Homo sapiens: one gene and its partner. The protein of the gene in region 1 interacts with the protein of each later gene in a pairwise test. Each region holds a gene or a part of one and is shown in the gene's direction. Other genes may lie near its edges.

Region 1 (7,195 bases):
AAGGTGCTGGACATATAGGTTAATGATCACCTGGAAAGCTTCCACATTGGAGGGGGCTGATGAGGAAATACAGCATAAGCTCAGGCAAGGAGAGAGGAGGAGCAGAGGAGCAGTGTATAAACTGAAGTGGTAAAGACTCAGAATGAGAGACAAGATGGCCAGAGTAGAGGGAAAAGAAGCATGCTAGATGTTGTGAGTGCCAGCACTGGGAATTACATCTGAGTTTAGGTATTTGGGGGCTCAGAAGTTCTCAGTTTACATCCTTTTGGGAATCATGGCGTTAGTCCATGAAGGAGGCTTGGACTGTTAGGCCATAGTATTTCCAGAACAACCCAATTGGTGGCTTAAAGCCGACAGTCCTGAAGTGTGCAGTATTTGAGCAGATAACTGCTCAAATTCTTTACTGCCAACAGCTTGAAGTAAAACAGGAGATTTTCCACCTGCTCCCTCACCCCTGTTGTTTCCAGATGCTCATACTAGCTGGTCTGCTCTGCTTGTTGCTGGATTGTGTTCCTTTTTTTCTTTTCCCTGCAGAGAAACCTTCCATTTTGTTTTGGCTTTGCAGGGTTTGGAGATAGCCCAAGGAGAAAAGGACCTGAAGCAACAGCTGGCCCAGGCTCTGCAGGAGGTAACTTTGCCATAGTACTAAGATTATAGTGGGCTGTGGAGTGGGGAGCAAACAGGCATCACATGACCACTGGCTGCCTCTGCTGCTTAGCCCATACCTCTGTGGCATCCCCAGTCTGTAAACAGAGCAGGTGGCAGCTGCTCACACCATCAGATCAGAGATTTGGAGCCTTACAAACATGCCAGACCTCAGCATGAAAACTTACATCTTTGTCTGAGCAGAAGTTGCTCTGGTGAAGATGGAATGGAGCTTTAGCAGTTAAGAGGCTCTCTGGGGAAGTGGCTCCACTTCTAGAAAGGTGAGGGCAGCAGAGGGAAAATGTGAGGTATGACTTGGCCACCAGGGCCCGTGAAGGCCTCTGTTACCGCAATGTTCCTGAGCTGTAGCCAACCAGAAACAATTGGGGAATGTTCCAGTTAAGCATTTTAGGCCAGGTTGAGAATGTGCAGTTTAACAATCAACAACACATATCAATTTATTGAAAAGGTAAAGCTCAACAGGACTAAAATTCTCCTAAAAGATTGCCTGTAATTTATTTAATTTAACCTGACTACTCTCATTTGATTATTTTTTTGTGTGCTCTTTTGCATCTTTAAAACCTACTATGTCTTCTACCTTTTATGTATTATGATTAGTAGTTTAGTGCCATTTAGTCAGGATGGTTCAAATCTCATTGGAAAGAGTGAGCAAATCACATAGGAATTTGTTCAGGGGAATTTATCCTTTTATCGTAAACCTACTTCCCAACCTTAACAGTGCTAACAGTCATACAGTATTGTAAGCATGACAGGGTGCCTGCCTTGATCTCCTTGAGGGTTGCACAAACAGCTTTGGAAAGAATTAGATGAAAATTAATTCAATCTTTTTAGAATTTTATTTTTTGAGCTTGTTTATTTTCTAGGGTGGGAGAGTAGGCATGTTTCCCATTTGGAACATTATTAAGTTAATATTCAGACATTGTTTTGAAATTGAAAAAGAATGTGGTTCTGCTAGTTGGAAATCCCTGAGGGATCACTGAGTACCCTGCACCCTCTCCTGAGACAGGAAAACACTCTATCATTTTGCATGGGATACTTGGCCATGCATTTATTAGCTTAAAATGTGATACTTTTAGACCGGGCACGGTGGCTCACGCCTGTAATCCCGGCACTTTGGGAGGCCCAGGCAGGCGGATCACCAGAGGTAGGGAGTTCAAGACCAGCCTGACCAACATGGAGAAACCCTGTCTCTACTAAAAATACAAAATTAGCCGGGCGTGGTGGCGCATGCCTGTAATCCCAGCTATTCAGGAGGCTGAGGCAGGAGAATCGCTTGAACCCGGGATGTGGAGGTTGTAGTGAGCTGAGATCGTGCCATTGCTCTCCAGCCTGGGCAACAAGACTCCGTCTCAAAAAAAAGTGATACTTTTAGGTCATGGTTCTATACCATCATGCCTGGGGGACATGCCACTCTCATGCAGTGGTGGTTTTTTGTTCCACCATGCTGATACTTTTGAAAGCTGTTCTTTACCAGACCATTATAAAAACTGTTTTTATAATGGTCTTTTATAACTGATTTCCTGTTTAAATCACATAATACCTTCCTCTCCAATCTCCAAGAAACTACCACATCTTTTTAAACCGAGTGATTCATAAGTTCTCAGGGAATTTGACTATAGTTAGAAATGGGTCCAGACCTTCACTGCCCTAAGCAGTCTGCCAGTCTTTGCTTTGAGTGGAAAAGAAAATAAAAAGATGTGTTTATATACAGCTCAAAAAACTTCTCTGAATGCTTTTCATACCTGTTATTTTCTTATGAACACTGAGGGAGGAGGGGGCACCTATTTTCCCATTTCCTTTTATTTTTATTTTGAGACAGTGTCTCGTTCTGTCACCCAGGCTGGAGTGCAGTGGTGCAATCTCAGCTCACTGCAGCCTCCGCCTCCTGGGCTCAAGTGATCCTCCCACTTCAGCCTCCTGAGTAGCTGGAACCATAGGCGCGCGCCACAATGCCCGACAATTTTTTTGTATTTTTGGTAGAGATGAGGTTTCACCATGTTGCCGAGGCTGGTCTCAAACTCCTGAGCTCAAGCCATCCACCCGGCTCAGCCTCCCAAAGTGCTGGGATTACAGGTATTATGAGCTACCACGCCCGGCCATATTTTCCCATTTTATAGATGAGAAAGTTAAAATACACATATCTAATTAGTGTGTCAAGTTGAAGACCCAGGCCTTTTGACATAACTGCTTTTTTTTGTCAGGAGATCACACATTTTAAAATTTGGTTCTTGAATAATATCTTTTCAAAAATACTTACCTTTACTCCACCTTCTTTTAAAAAGAATTTGAGGTGAGATTCTAAAGTATAAGCTATACTTAAGCATGAGAGAACTCATAAATTATGTTTCATATATGTGGAACCTCTTGACATTCAGCATAGGCATTTAGTCACAATGAATGAGCTGTTAGCTCCTGGGTGTGCCTTCTTCCAGAAAACACTGGCAGGGTTCAGGCAGCATTGTCTGAGCATGTAATATGTGATTTGTAGAACAAATAGGTTAAAAATCTTTTTTATTTCAATAAAAATGACTATCTAATTCTGCTGATTCCCATTTCCTCCTGATTATTTCATAAAAGCTGCTTCCAGTTCTGAATAGCTTTTAATTACTTACTAGTTCTTAAATACTGTTCCCAGAATCACTTGGGTGGCTTTAAAAAAAAAGAAAAAAAGAAAAGCACATTTCTGGGCTCCAAGCCAAACCTATAGAAGCAGACTCTGGGACACAGTGAAAGTTCTTCAGTTGACTTGGATGGCCACCAATGTTGGGTTAGTTTTAGAGGCCCTAGTCCATTTGGTGGCCGCCTTCCCTAACTGCCCTCTCCCCTGAAAAAAGCAGCAGGTAGGTAAGATAGCCCAATGGAATAAAGGTATTATTTTGAAATTGCCAATTTATCGATCCCTGAACCACAAAGTCACTAACTAGAGGGAGAGAACAGGCATGTTTGTGGCTAAAAGGAAGGATGCATTGTAGTTCATCCTGAGTATGTATCTGCTATGTTTTTGCAGCATTGGGCTCTAATGGAAGAGCTAAATCGCAGCAAGAAGGACTTTGAAGCAATCATTCAAGCCAAGAACAAAGAATTAGAGCAGACCAAGGTACTGGAAAGAAGATGGAAGTTTAGAATTTGGTTAGTGCATGCAACTCAGCATTTTCAACAGTGCAAGGGTTGCTAGGGAAAATAAAGAGAGAAATTATGGCTGCTCCTTGCCTCTGGGGAGATAATCTATAAAATTATAGAGGCCTATAGCAGGTTCTGCCTGTCAGACAACATCTATTTCCTTCCCTTGTTCAGAAGCAAAATGCTGGGAATAAGGCACTTGCATCCTGTATTCTAGTCCTTTGTCTATGGTGGGTACTCCTTCAGAGTGTGTCACTGATACAGACTGAGGAATATTGTAGTCAAGAAATAGTTCCTCCTGAACTATGTAATTTGAATTACATAAAGTAAAGTGAATTACTTAATGCAGTTTCTTCCCATGTCAAATCAGGAGAACTCTTGAATTAGGGGTTATAAACTTAAATGCCCACCAGGGCCAGACTGGTAATCAAAGTGAGTGAAGTGGCCTGAATGTAAGAACACAGTAGGGAGCTGTGCGGGCTATGGCTTATTGGATGGGGTACTTGCCCACACCCCCATCCCAGGAGGCAACTCTTCTCTGCTCAGCCAATTGTTGCCATCCAGAAGTGCAGGCCCAGTGTTGTCAGATCTTCTGATTTTTCCACAGCAGATGAAAGTCCAAATGTTTAAGTGAAATATCCCAAATTTTAAATATTGGCAACAACTTCAGCTTTTTGTGTGTGTTTTAATATGAAGGCCAAACTAAACAAGTCTGCAGGGTGGATCCAGTCCACAGGCCACCAATTTGCAACCTCTGACTTGAAATTAATACCTGAGTCTGACTGCATCTGTCATCCCACCCCCTCCATGTACCAACCTAGAACTGAAGGAGGGACTTGTTTTAGCTGGTTTGATTTCCTGTTTAAATCACATAATACCTTCCTCTCCAACCTCCAAGAAACTGCCACATCTTTTTAAACCCAGTGATTCATAAGTTCTCAGGGAATTTGACTATGGTTAGAAATGGGTCCAGACCTTCTTCACTGCCCTAAGCAGTCTGCCAGTCTTTGCTTTGAGTGGAAAAGAAAATAAAACAATTAAAAATGAGCCAGCCACTCAAATATACCTCAAATGGCCTATCCTCTCCCCCTCAGGGGCTCTTAATGCTTTTTGTTTTGGGGGTGAAGTGCTAAAATAAATGTCTGCTTCAAGAGAGCATACGTAGGAGCCTCCTTAAAAAGTGTGTCCACACGCAGTCTGACCTCTTGGGGAAAGCCGGGGAGATGGTACTGCAGGCCTCTGCAGGAGTGGGAAGTGGCAGGTATCATAGAGCATGGAGCCTGAAGGTAATTCAAGAGGCCTGTCTCCAGCCTTCTGCCTCCAGAGGTGTACCTTACTTTACAGAAAAGGCAGCTGCAAAGAACACAGCAACTTTATAACTAATTCAAGTTTCCTGCCTCTGGACTATTCATGCCTCTTTTCTTGTCCAGTGAGTTTTTAATTGTTTGGGATAATCTTATGTAATGTCTGAACTACAGCTTGCTATAAACTACTTAATGTCCCATCTGGTCTTGGGTGGTTGGTGTGGTTAGTATGTCACCTGCATTTTTCTCATTTGATTAATTTTGGGGAAGGAGACAGAATTTGCAATGCAAATACTGAAAAAGTGGTGTTTTAGTCCATTCAGGCTACTACAAAAAAGACCCATAAACTGCGTAGCTTAAAAACAACAGAAATTTATTTCTCACAGTACTGGAGGTTGGGAAATCCAAGATCAAGATGCTGGCATGTTTGGTGTCTGGTGAGGGCTGTCTTCTGATTCGTAGATGGAGTCTTGCCATGTCTGTCCCTATATGGCGGAAGGGGCAAATGAGCTCTCCTTGGGCCCCTTTAAGGCCACTAACCCCATTTATGAGCATGGAGCCCTCATGACCTAGTCACCTCCCAAAGGCCCCACCTCTTAATACCATCACGTTTGAAAATAAGTTTCAACATGGGAATTTGGGAGGAAGCACAAACATTCAGACCATAGCAAGTAGGGAGAGGAAAGAAAGGAGGTTAGTGCTCTGTATTAGAAAACAATTATTGAAAAACAATAAGCCTTAGGGAAAGTGTTCTATTCTTAATGTTGCTGCACCAGAATGAATCACTCATTAAGACTGAATCCTCTTCTAAATAATTGACCCTGCTCCCTGTCCCATTTTGCATTTTTGTTGGTTCTCTGAATGACAGGTAGGATTGTGTGTCTTGCAGGAAGAGAAGGAGAAGATGCAAGCACAGAAGGAAGAAGTTCTTAGCCACATGAATGATGTGCTAGAGAATGAGCTCCAATGTATTATTTGTTCAGAATACTTCATTGAGGTAATTATGAACAGTTGCTCACCCCTTCTTTTTTTTTTTTTTTTTTTTTTTTTTTTGAGACAGAGTCTCACTCTGTCAACCCAGGCTAGAGTGCAGTGCCACAATCTCGGCTCACTGCAACCTCCACTTCCTGGGCTCAAGCAGTTCTTGTGCCTCAGCCTCCCAAGTAGCTGGGTCCCTTACAGGCACATGCCACCATGCCTGTCTAAGCTTTTGTATTTTTAGTAGACATGGGGTTTTGCCATGTTGGCTAGGCTAGTCTCGAACTCCTGACCTCAGGTGATCTGCCCACCTCAGCCTCCCAAAGTGCTGGGATTACAGGTGTGAGTCACCACACCCAGCCGACCCCTTCTTATTCTCCCAACCCTGAATGAAGCCTGGGCTACACAGGCTGCTTCTACTATAGGGGAACATTCTGAAGAGATTTTCTTCCAGGAACTTATAACTATTTGATTTCAAAGTCACCTCTAGAGATGACCACCTCTTATTTGTTTTTATAATCTTCTTTCCCTTCACTGTCCTTTTTTGGCATTTCATCTGTTCTTAAATGTTTATTTGGTATGATTAACATTTTGAGCTGCAATGAAGCCTTTATCTCTTTGTTGTTGAGGAGAAAACAGGGCCAAATTAGATTTTGGAAGTATCAGAATAAAGCTGCTCAATAAAAGCTATTCTTTCTTTACTCTGAATGGGCACTATGCCGAGAATATGCTTATAGTGCAACCTTTTAAACGAGGGGGTAAACGTCATTAAAATGTGGTCACTTTGGGAATTTACGGCCCAAGTTGAATATATTTCAGGGACTCTGAGGCTCCTTATGGAAATGAAACCTCTACCATTTGTTAGCCTATCATATTTTTGCACTGGCTTATTTATTTATTTGACAAATTCTGCTGTTTGTGACCAGTTCACCTTAGACCACAGATGTTAAATTCAAGTTGCTAAATGACAGTGCTATTCAGACTCCTTTAAAAAGAAGGCCAGGTGCAGTGGCTCACACCTGTAATCCCAGCACTTTGGAAGGCCAAGGCAAGAGGATCACCTGAGGTTAGGAGCTCGAGACCAGACTGGCCAACATGGTGAAACACCATCTCTACTAAAACTACAA
Region 2 (7,712 bases), on another chromosome or scaffold:
GAACCAGCCACGCCTACCAGGTGGCAGAGCTGGGGCCATTGGGACAGGGGGCTCAAGCCACATCGTCATTTGTGGTTACCAAGCAGGGTTCCCCCTTCCCTTTTCTCCTTCCCTACTTTGTACAAAGGACCAGAGTTATATATATATATATATGTATATGTCTGTACCCCAGCCCCCACCTTTCAGATTCTGCTCTTGGCACTCAGCTGTGGGCTGCACGTGGAGCTGTCCCGTGCGGTAGTAGCTGTGTCTGTGTCCCCTCGTGAAATAGTGTGCAGTGGAGGTCTCTTGTGGTGCTAGATGTGTGTTTAGAGCTAAACCAGCCCCCACCCCCACCCTCCACCTGCCCCTCTTGCCTCTGGCCCCTCTGACCCTGGCCCAGGGACCCCTCACGGGGCCAGGGGAGGCATAGCAGAAAGACTGGCCCCTTCCTAGGGTTATGAGCTGGAACTGTTTCTACTTTCAGTCTTCCTGGGAAGTAACAGTACTTAGCACTCTTGGTGGTGGGTGGGAGGGTGGGTACAGGCCAGGGATATTCCCTTGCTCTTTTGATCCCTCCAGGCCTCGCCTCCTTCAGCCTCCTCCTCCCTCATCTGTTCCCTGATGTCACATTCCCTGTGCAATCTTCCCTTGCCCATGGTCTGTCTATCTCTTTCCTATGTGGCTTTTCTTTGTCTTCCCCAAGGCTGAGTGTCCCAGTTTTATCTGCTCCTGAGACTGAGCCCAGATCCCCAAATCTAATCTGATTTACAGTTCAAGGAAGCTGATGGGGAGCTGGGCCTTACCCCTGATGTAGGAGGGGCACACAGCTGGGGGTGCAGAGCCCACCTGGGTACCTGACCCCCAGGGGATGAAAATGCAAGGATGAGTCTGCTTGGGCCTGAGAGTTTGATCTGCAGGGGCAGGCTCATCTTTTCTCTCCCCTGCCTTCTCCTCCTTCTCTCCCCAGAGCCCCCTTGAGCCCCTCTGCCTATGTCCCTCTGCCTCCTCCCCATGCCCCCAGTTGCTGTGGCTTGATTCTGCTACCCTGACCCCACCATGTGCCAGGTGGCATCTGCCTTACTGCCTTCCCTGAGGAGCTGGGACATGCTGGGCAGTTGTCAGATGTAAAGGCACAGCTGGAGCAGAGGGCATGTCAGTAATGATTGGTCCCTGGGGAAGGTCTGGCTGGCTCCAGCACAGTGAGGCATTTAGGTATCTCTCGGTGACCGTTGGATTCCTGGAAGCAGTAGCTGTTCTGTTTGGATCTGGTAGGACAGGGCTCAGAGGGCTAGGCACGGAGGGAAGGTCAGAGGAGAAGGCAGGCAGGGCCCAGTGAGAGGGGAGCATGCCTTCCCCCACCCTGGCTTGCTCTTGGTCACAGGGCGGTTCTGGGCACTTGAACTCAGGGCCCAAGCAGAAGCACAGGCCCAGTCCTGGCTGCAAGCACAATAGCCTGAATGGGATTTCAGGTTAGGCAGGGTGGGAGGGGAGGCTCTCTGGCTTTAGTTTTGTTTTGTTTTCCAAATCAAGGTAACTTGCTCCCTTCTGCCTACAGGCCTTGGTCTTGGCTTGTCCTCACCCAGTCGGAACTCCCTACCACTTTCAGGAGAGTGGTTTTAGGCCCGTGGGGCTGTTCTGTTCCAAGCAGTGTGAGAACATGGCTGGTAGAGGCTCTAGCTGTGTGCGGGGCCTGAAGGGGAGTGGGTTCTCGCCCAAAGAGCATCTGCCCATTTCCCACCTTCCCTTCTCCCACCAGAAGCTTGCCTGAGCTGTTTGGACAAAAATCCAAACCCCACTTGGCTACTCTGGCCTGGCTTCAGCTTGGAACCCAATACCTAGGCTTACAGGCCATCCTGAGCCAGGGGCCTCTGGAAATTCTCTTCCTGATGGTCCTTTAGGTTTGGGCACAAAATATAATTGCCTCTCCCCTCTCCCATTTTCTCTCTTGGGAGCAATGGTCACAGTCCCTGGTACCTGAAAAGGTACCTAGGTCTAGGCCCTTCTTCCCTTTCCCTTCCTCTCCCCTACCCCAGAACTTTGGCTCCCTTTCCCTTCTCTCTCTGGTAGCTCCAGGAGGCCTGTGATCCAGCTCCCTGCCTAGCATCCATGACCTGTTGGATGTTACCTCCAATCAGTTTCCTGTCCTACCTGCCTCTTTGGCTTGGACCTATATGGCCATGCTCTGGCTCTACCCTTGGGAAGCCTGATCCCGGTGTGTGGCCCAGCTTGTTCAGGCCCTGGGATGCTGCATCTCCAGGCAACTATGCACTTTCCCGGGGAGAGAACCAGTATGAGAAGTGGGGGCAGGGCACACATTCATCTTTGTAGGAAGGTCTGGCCTGGGGTCGGGTGAAGGAGGGCCCAGGTCAGTTCTGGGGTCCCAGTGACCTGCTTTGCCATTCTCCTGGTGCCGCTGCTGCTCCCTGTTTCTGGAGCTGGATGTTCCCCAGCTGGCAGTTGAGCTGCCTGAGCCAATGTGTCTGTCTTTGGTAACTGAGTGAACCATAATAAAGGGGAACATTTGGCCCTGTGTGTTCTGCTGTGTCATGTGTCTTCCTGTGGACTTGCGTGGAGCCTCACAGCGGGCTGTGGGGCAGGGGCATGAAAGTATGGGGGGTGGGTGGATCTGTGGTCTGTCATTCCCCGAGACCTAGAGCTATACGACCCTGTGTGGCTCCTTCTCTGAGGCAGCCTTCAGTAGGTGATGAAATTGCCACCTAGGCCCCCTGCCTTGGGAGGAGGAAGTAGAAGAAGCAGGCTGGATCGGCCGGGCGTGGTGGCTCACACCTGTAATCCTAGCACTTTGGGAGGCTGAGGCGGGTGGATCACGAGGTCAGGAGATCGAGACCATCCTGGCTAACACGGTGAAACCCCATCTCTACTAAAAATACAAAAAATTAGGCGGGCGAGGTGGCAGGCACCTGTAGTCCCAGCTACTCGGGAGGCTGAGGCGGGAGAATGGCGTGAACACAGGAGGCGGAGCTTGCAGTGAGCCGAGATCGCACCACTGCACTCCAGCCTGGGCGACACAGCAAGACTCCATCTCAAAAAAAAAAGACACGGCTGGATCCCTGCGTAAGGGATGGTTTGGCCCAGATGGTCCACTGCGGCTAAGGGCGGGGGTAGAGCAGAGGCCCCACCTCAGCTCAGGGCAGGGGACCCGCAGCTGGTTCAGCCACCTCAATGAATACAGAGGTTCCTGGGGCCTGTGAAGGCTAGAAAATGAAGGGGGCAGGGAAGCATGCCAGTGTGTGTTCTTCTGCCGCCTTCCCTTTGCCCATTTGATGCCTTCCACCTGGATCGCTATTGGGATCCTCTATCTAACCTCCTGGCTGTCCTTCAAGATTCATTTCAAGTCACTCCTTCAAGAAGGCTTTCCTGCCTAGAGGTGTTGCTTCCTCATGGAGGATCTTACCCTGTCATTTTCTGTGTCCCTGTTTGTCTCAAGAACAGGGACGCATCTGATTTATCTCTGTATCCTGTGCACCTAAAATAGAAGAGGCTTGGTAAATATTAAGTGCCACGAGCCCTCTTTTACTAAGGACCTGCCAACATGGGCCCCATTCACACTAATACCATGAAGATAGCCCTTTTCTATACTTCGTCATAAAAAAGTAATACACACACCCGGGCAGCAACTTCCACACAAACAACACATGTGCAAGGAGATCACCATTATTTCCAGCAAAATGCTCCCCAGGGCCGAGCGTGGTGGCTCACTCCTGTAGTCCCAGCACTTTGGGAGGCCAAGGTGGGCGGATTGTTTGAGCCTAGGAGTTTGAGACCAGCCTGGGCAATAGAGTGAGAACCCGTCTCTACAAAAAATACAAACATTAGTCTGGCATGATGGTGCACTCCTGTAGTCCTGGCTACTCCATAGGCTGAGATAGGAGGATGGCTTAAGCCCAAAAGGTGGAGGTTGCAGTGAGTGGAGATAGCACCACTGCGCACTCCAGTCTGGGTGACAGAGCCAGACCCTGTCTCAAAAAAAAAAAAAAAAACAAAAAAAAAAACAGCTCCCCAACAAGATAGCAGGCTACAACATGCATGTGATGAAGCTGATTTGAAGCGCTCAGTGAGAGGTATCTGCATCAAGTTGCAGGAGGAGAAGAGAGAAAGGAGAGATAATCATGTTCCTGAGGTCTCAGCCCTGGATCAGGAAATCATTGAAGTATTAACATATCCTGACATTAAGGAAATGCTGATGTTTTTGGACTTTGGCAGTCTGTCCAACCTGCAGGTCACTCAGCCAACAGTGGGGATGAATTTCAAAACGCCACGTGGAAGCTGTTTGAATCTTTTTGAGATACTGTAATATTTTCAATAAACCTGGGACAACAGCAAAAAAAAAAAAAAAAAAAAAAAGGCCCCAAGCAACAAGCAGTGTGTGTGGGGCTGATAGGAGTGAGGAAAGGAGGTCGGACAGTTATGCCAGCCCCTATCGAGAGTCCCAGCAATACAAAGAACAGGGCCAGGGTTTGCTCCAGGATTTCCCCAGTGGACTACAACTCCCGGAAGGCAGAGAAGTGGACTACAGCTCCCAGAAGGCTGCGCGACATACAGCCAGCCCGGTGCTCTCGTGAGGCGTGCCAGTCAGATTCCGCGGGAGAGCGGCAGAGATACCGCGATATTTGGGAGCGGCCCCGAGACGCGCCTGGCGCGGGTGAGCAGTGGAAGGGGGCTGGGAAGCTGGGTTCTCGCGGCGGCGCGGGAGGGGAGGTTCGGGGAGCTGTGTCCGCGAGCGTGGGTCCACGGCTGTCTGTGTGTGTCCTTATTTTCCCCTGTGTGCCCATGAAGCTCTGTTTGCGACTGTGCGTGGGTAGGCGGCCGTCCATCTGTGCGACCTCACTTTCCCGGCTGTACGGGTGGGGCCGCCTGGAGCAGGAGGGACCCCCGAGCCCTGAGTGGAGGGTTTGCATCTGTACCCGTCCAGCCCGACTTTGTGCTGCTCTGCGATTATTTGTCCAGTGTCGTTTAATCTAGTTTAAATGATGGCCGTGTCAGCTCCTCACACTGAACGCTTACCCGGGCTGCCCAAAGTACAAAGTGTATTTAAAAAGTTGGTAAAATTAAAAAAGGAAAGCCATGGGATGTTGGAAGTAGCCCTAGGCCTGCCAAAAAGTGCTGAGTGCTATTTAAAAATTAGGCCAAATCTTGTCAGAAAAGAACTTCCTGCTGTCCTTGAAGTATTTGGAAGCAGGTGCTAGATGGTGAGCAGGAGAGGTTGCCAAGTTGGGGAAGTGGTGGTTGTCCTGGAGCAGGGGTTTCCACATCTCTCACAGTGGCTGGGAAGTAGCAATTCGCAGTCACTGCCTTTCTAGTAGCCCACGTGTGTGAGTGTGTGTGTTAGATACATTTATCCCTCAGTATCCGCAGGGGATTGCTGTATACTTTTTTTTTTTGAGACAAGGTCTCATTCTGTGACCCAGGCTGGAGTGCAGTGGCAGGAACATGGCTCACTGCAGCCTCGACCTCCTGGGCTCAAGGGATCCTCCTGCCTCAGCCTCCTGTGTAGCTGGAACCACAGGCATAAACAACCATACCCGGCTAATTTTTATTTTATTTCATTTTTGTAGAGACAGGGTCTCACCATGTTGCCCAGGCTGGTCTCAAACTCCTGGCTCAAGCTATCCTCCTTCCTTGGCCTCTCAAAATGCTGGGATTACAGGTGTGAGCCACCACATCACCCTCCTGTATACTCTTTTTTCTTTTCTTTTTTTTTTTTTGAGTCAGGGTCTCACTCTTGTCTCCCAGGCTGGAGTGTAGTGGTGCAATCATAGCTCACTGCATCTTCGAACTCCCTGGGCTCAGATAATCCTCCCACCTCAGCCTCCCAGGTAGCTGGGACTGCAGGCACGTGCCACCACGCCCTCCATATAATTTAAATAATCTCTAGATTACTTATAAAACCTGATACAGTGTAAATGCTATGTAAATAGCTACACACTTTTTTTTTTTTGTGGTACTATTATTATATTTTGAAATGGTCTCTCTCTGTCACCCAGGCTGGAGTGCAGTGGCACAAACATGGCTCACTGCAGCCTTCTAGGCTCAAGCGATCCTCCTGCCTCAGCCTCCCAAGTAGTTGAGACCACAGGCATGTGCCACCACACCTCACTAACTTTTAAATTTTTTGTATGGGGTCTTGCTATGTTACCCAGGCTGGTCTCGAGTACCTGGGTTTGCTCAATCCTCCCACCTTGCCCTCTTAAATTGCTGGGATTACAGGTGTAAGCTGGAGCAGAAGCCTGGGCAGCCGGTAGTGAGGGGCTTTGATGTTAGGCTAAAGGATTCAGGCTCATAATGGATCTTGGATCCCTGCCTACCCACCACCCACTTCCCTTGTTTGGTTCTGCTTTGTCTTAGGCTCAGTTCTCATCCTTCCTGTATTGAGCTTGAACGTATACCCTGTCTGGCCTTGCTTTCCTTGCTCTGTCTTTAGTCTGGTTCTGTGCCAGCTCCACCTTTGCCCATATAGGGACTGGCAGGTATCCCTGAAACCTAAAACTCTGCCCTGAATTAAACTCATCAGAGGAGACTTAAACATCACAAGCTGAGGCTCTTTGCTCTGTCTGTCCCTGTCTTTCTGGAGGATAGAGAAGCTGCCATTTTTCTGGCTGTGGCTTACCTGCTTGGCTAGTGCCCTGGGATCTTGAGGCTCAGTAATCAAAGCGTGTAGCCCTATAACCTGCCCACTTGCCAACTCTTTTTGCTGCTCAGGAGTTCCTGTGAATTCAGCAGAGCCCGGGGAAGTCAGGTACTACAGCTACCTGTGCAAATAGGTGACTCCAACAGGTTCTGGTTACAGTAATAGACTTACTGGTTTGGAATTTGATCCTCTTTGCAAGCAAATGAAGGAATCCTGCCAGCCATCACCCTTCCTGGAATTCTCAGGTTGAACTGATTGGACCTCGCCTCCAAATGTTGGTTAAATGATCCACTTTCTATTCTTCAAGTATATTAAGCACACACATACACACACACACCCTCTTTTTTAGGAAGGTAGGTAGGTTTGATCCTTAGCACAGCTTTGCTAAGCAGGCTAAGTACTGTATTTCGGACTATAGTGCCTGCTGTGGGGAAGCAGTTGAAGTCACTAATACAGATTCCTGCCCCAAGTTTAACTGACTGCTTTCTGTAACCTGTTTCCTAGGAATGAGATCAGCTTGATGTGGAGGAGGTTCAGGGGCCTCAGAGATAAAATTTGGCTTCTGGTTTTGCAGGAATCTACCTATCCTAGCACCAGTTGGCTAGGGTGGGACAGGGTCAGGGTTTGCGATCTGGCAGGTAGGTTTCCCTGGAGAATAAAGAATGTGCCTCCATCACCTACCAATGATGTGTTCTGGGAAGAAGCTGGCTGGTAGCCCTTCTGTACCTTGTCAGATTCTAACAGGGCTCCCCACTCCCTGGGGTAAACTCAGTTCTCCAACTCTGGCCAAGCATTGCCCTGGTTGGGGCCCTGCAGTGGAGCAGACATTGAGATTACTGGCAAATCAAACTTTGGGTGATCTTGCCCTAGGGAACCAGCCTGTGCTTAACCCCTGCTGAGAAGTGGGATAATGCAGCCAAACATGATCCTCAGCCCACGTGGGTTGTGCTCAAGTGCTGAAGGCAAATCCTGGGCAGAGAGGCTAGAGAGCCAAGGGGCCTGTGAGTGAAGAGGAGATAGGCCCCTGTGGATGCTCAGCCATGGAGGTAGCCATTGGACAACTCACCAGCGCTGCTTCCTG

The links. The genes of interacting proteins can lie anywhere in the genome.
Region 2: the proteins of RNF8 (region 1) and PPCDC interact in binary tests that used the Homo sapiens proteins (3 or more experiments, as listed by UniProt).

Annotation. Positions count from the first base shown.
Region 1 is NC_000006.12:37,370,947-37,378,141, forward strand, and holds part of RNF8 (E3 ubiquitin-protein ligase RNF8), read left to right. Parts: intron 1-565; coding exon 566-628; intron 629-3,673; coding exon 3,674-3,763; intron 3,764-5,979; coding exon 5,980-6,087; intron 6,088-7,195. UniProt on the Homo sapiens protein: E3 ubiquitin-protein ligase that plays a key role in DNA damage signaling via 2 distinct roles: by mediating the 'Lys-63'-linked ubiquitination of histones H2A and H2AX and promoting the recruitment of DNA repair proteins at double-strand breaks (DSBs) sites, and by catalyzing 'Lys-48'-linked ubiquitination to remove target proteins from DNA damage sites.
Region 2 is NC_000015.10:75,018,982-75,026,693, forward strand, and holds the start of PPCDC (phosphopantothenoylcysteine decarboxylase), read left to right. Parts: upstream 1-4,608; 5' UTR 4,609-4,645; intron 4,646-7,712. Other genes in the region: SCAMP5 (secretory carrier-associated membrane protein 5), read left to right, coding at 1-2. UniProt on the Homo sapiens protein: Catalyzes the decarboxylation of the cysteine moiety of 4-phosphopantothenoylcysteine to form 4'-phosphopantotheine and this reaction forms part of the biosynthesis of coenzyme A.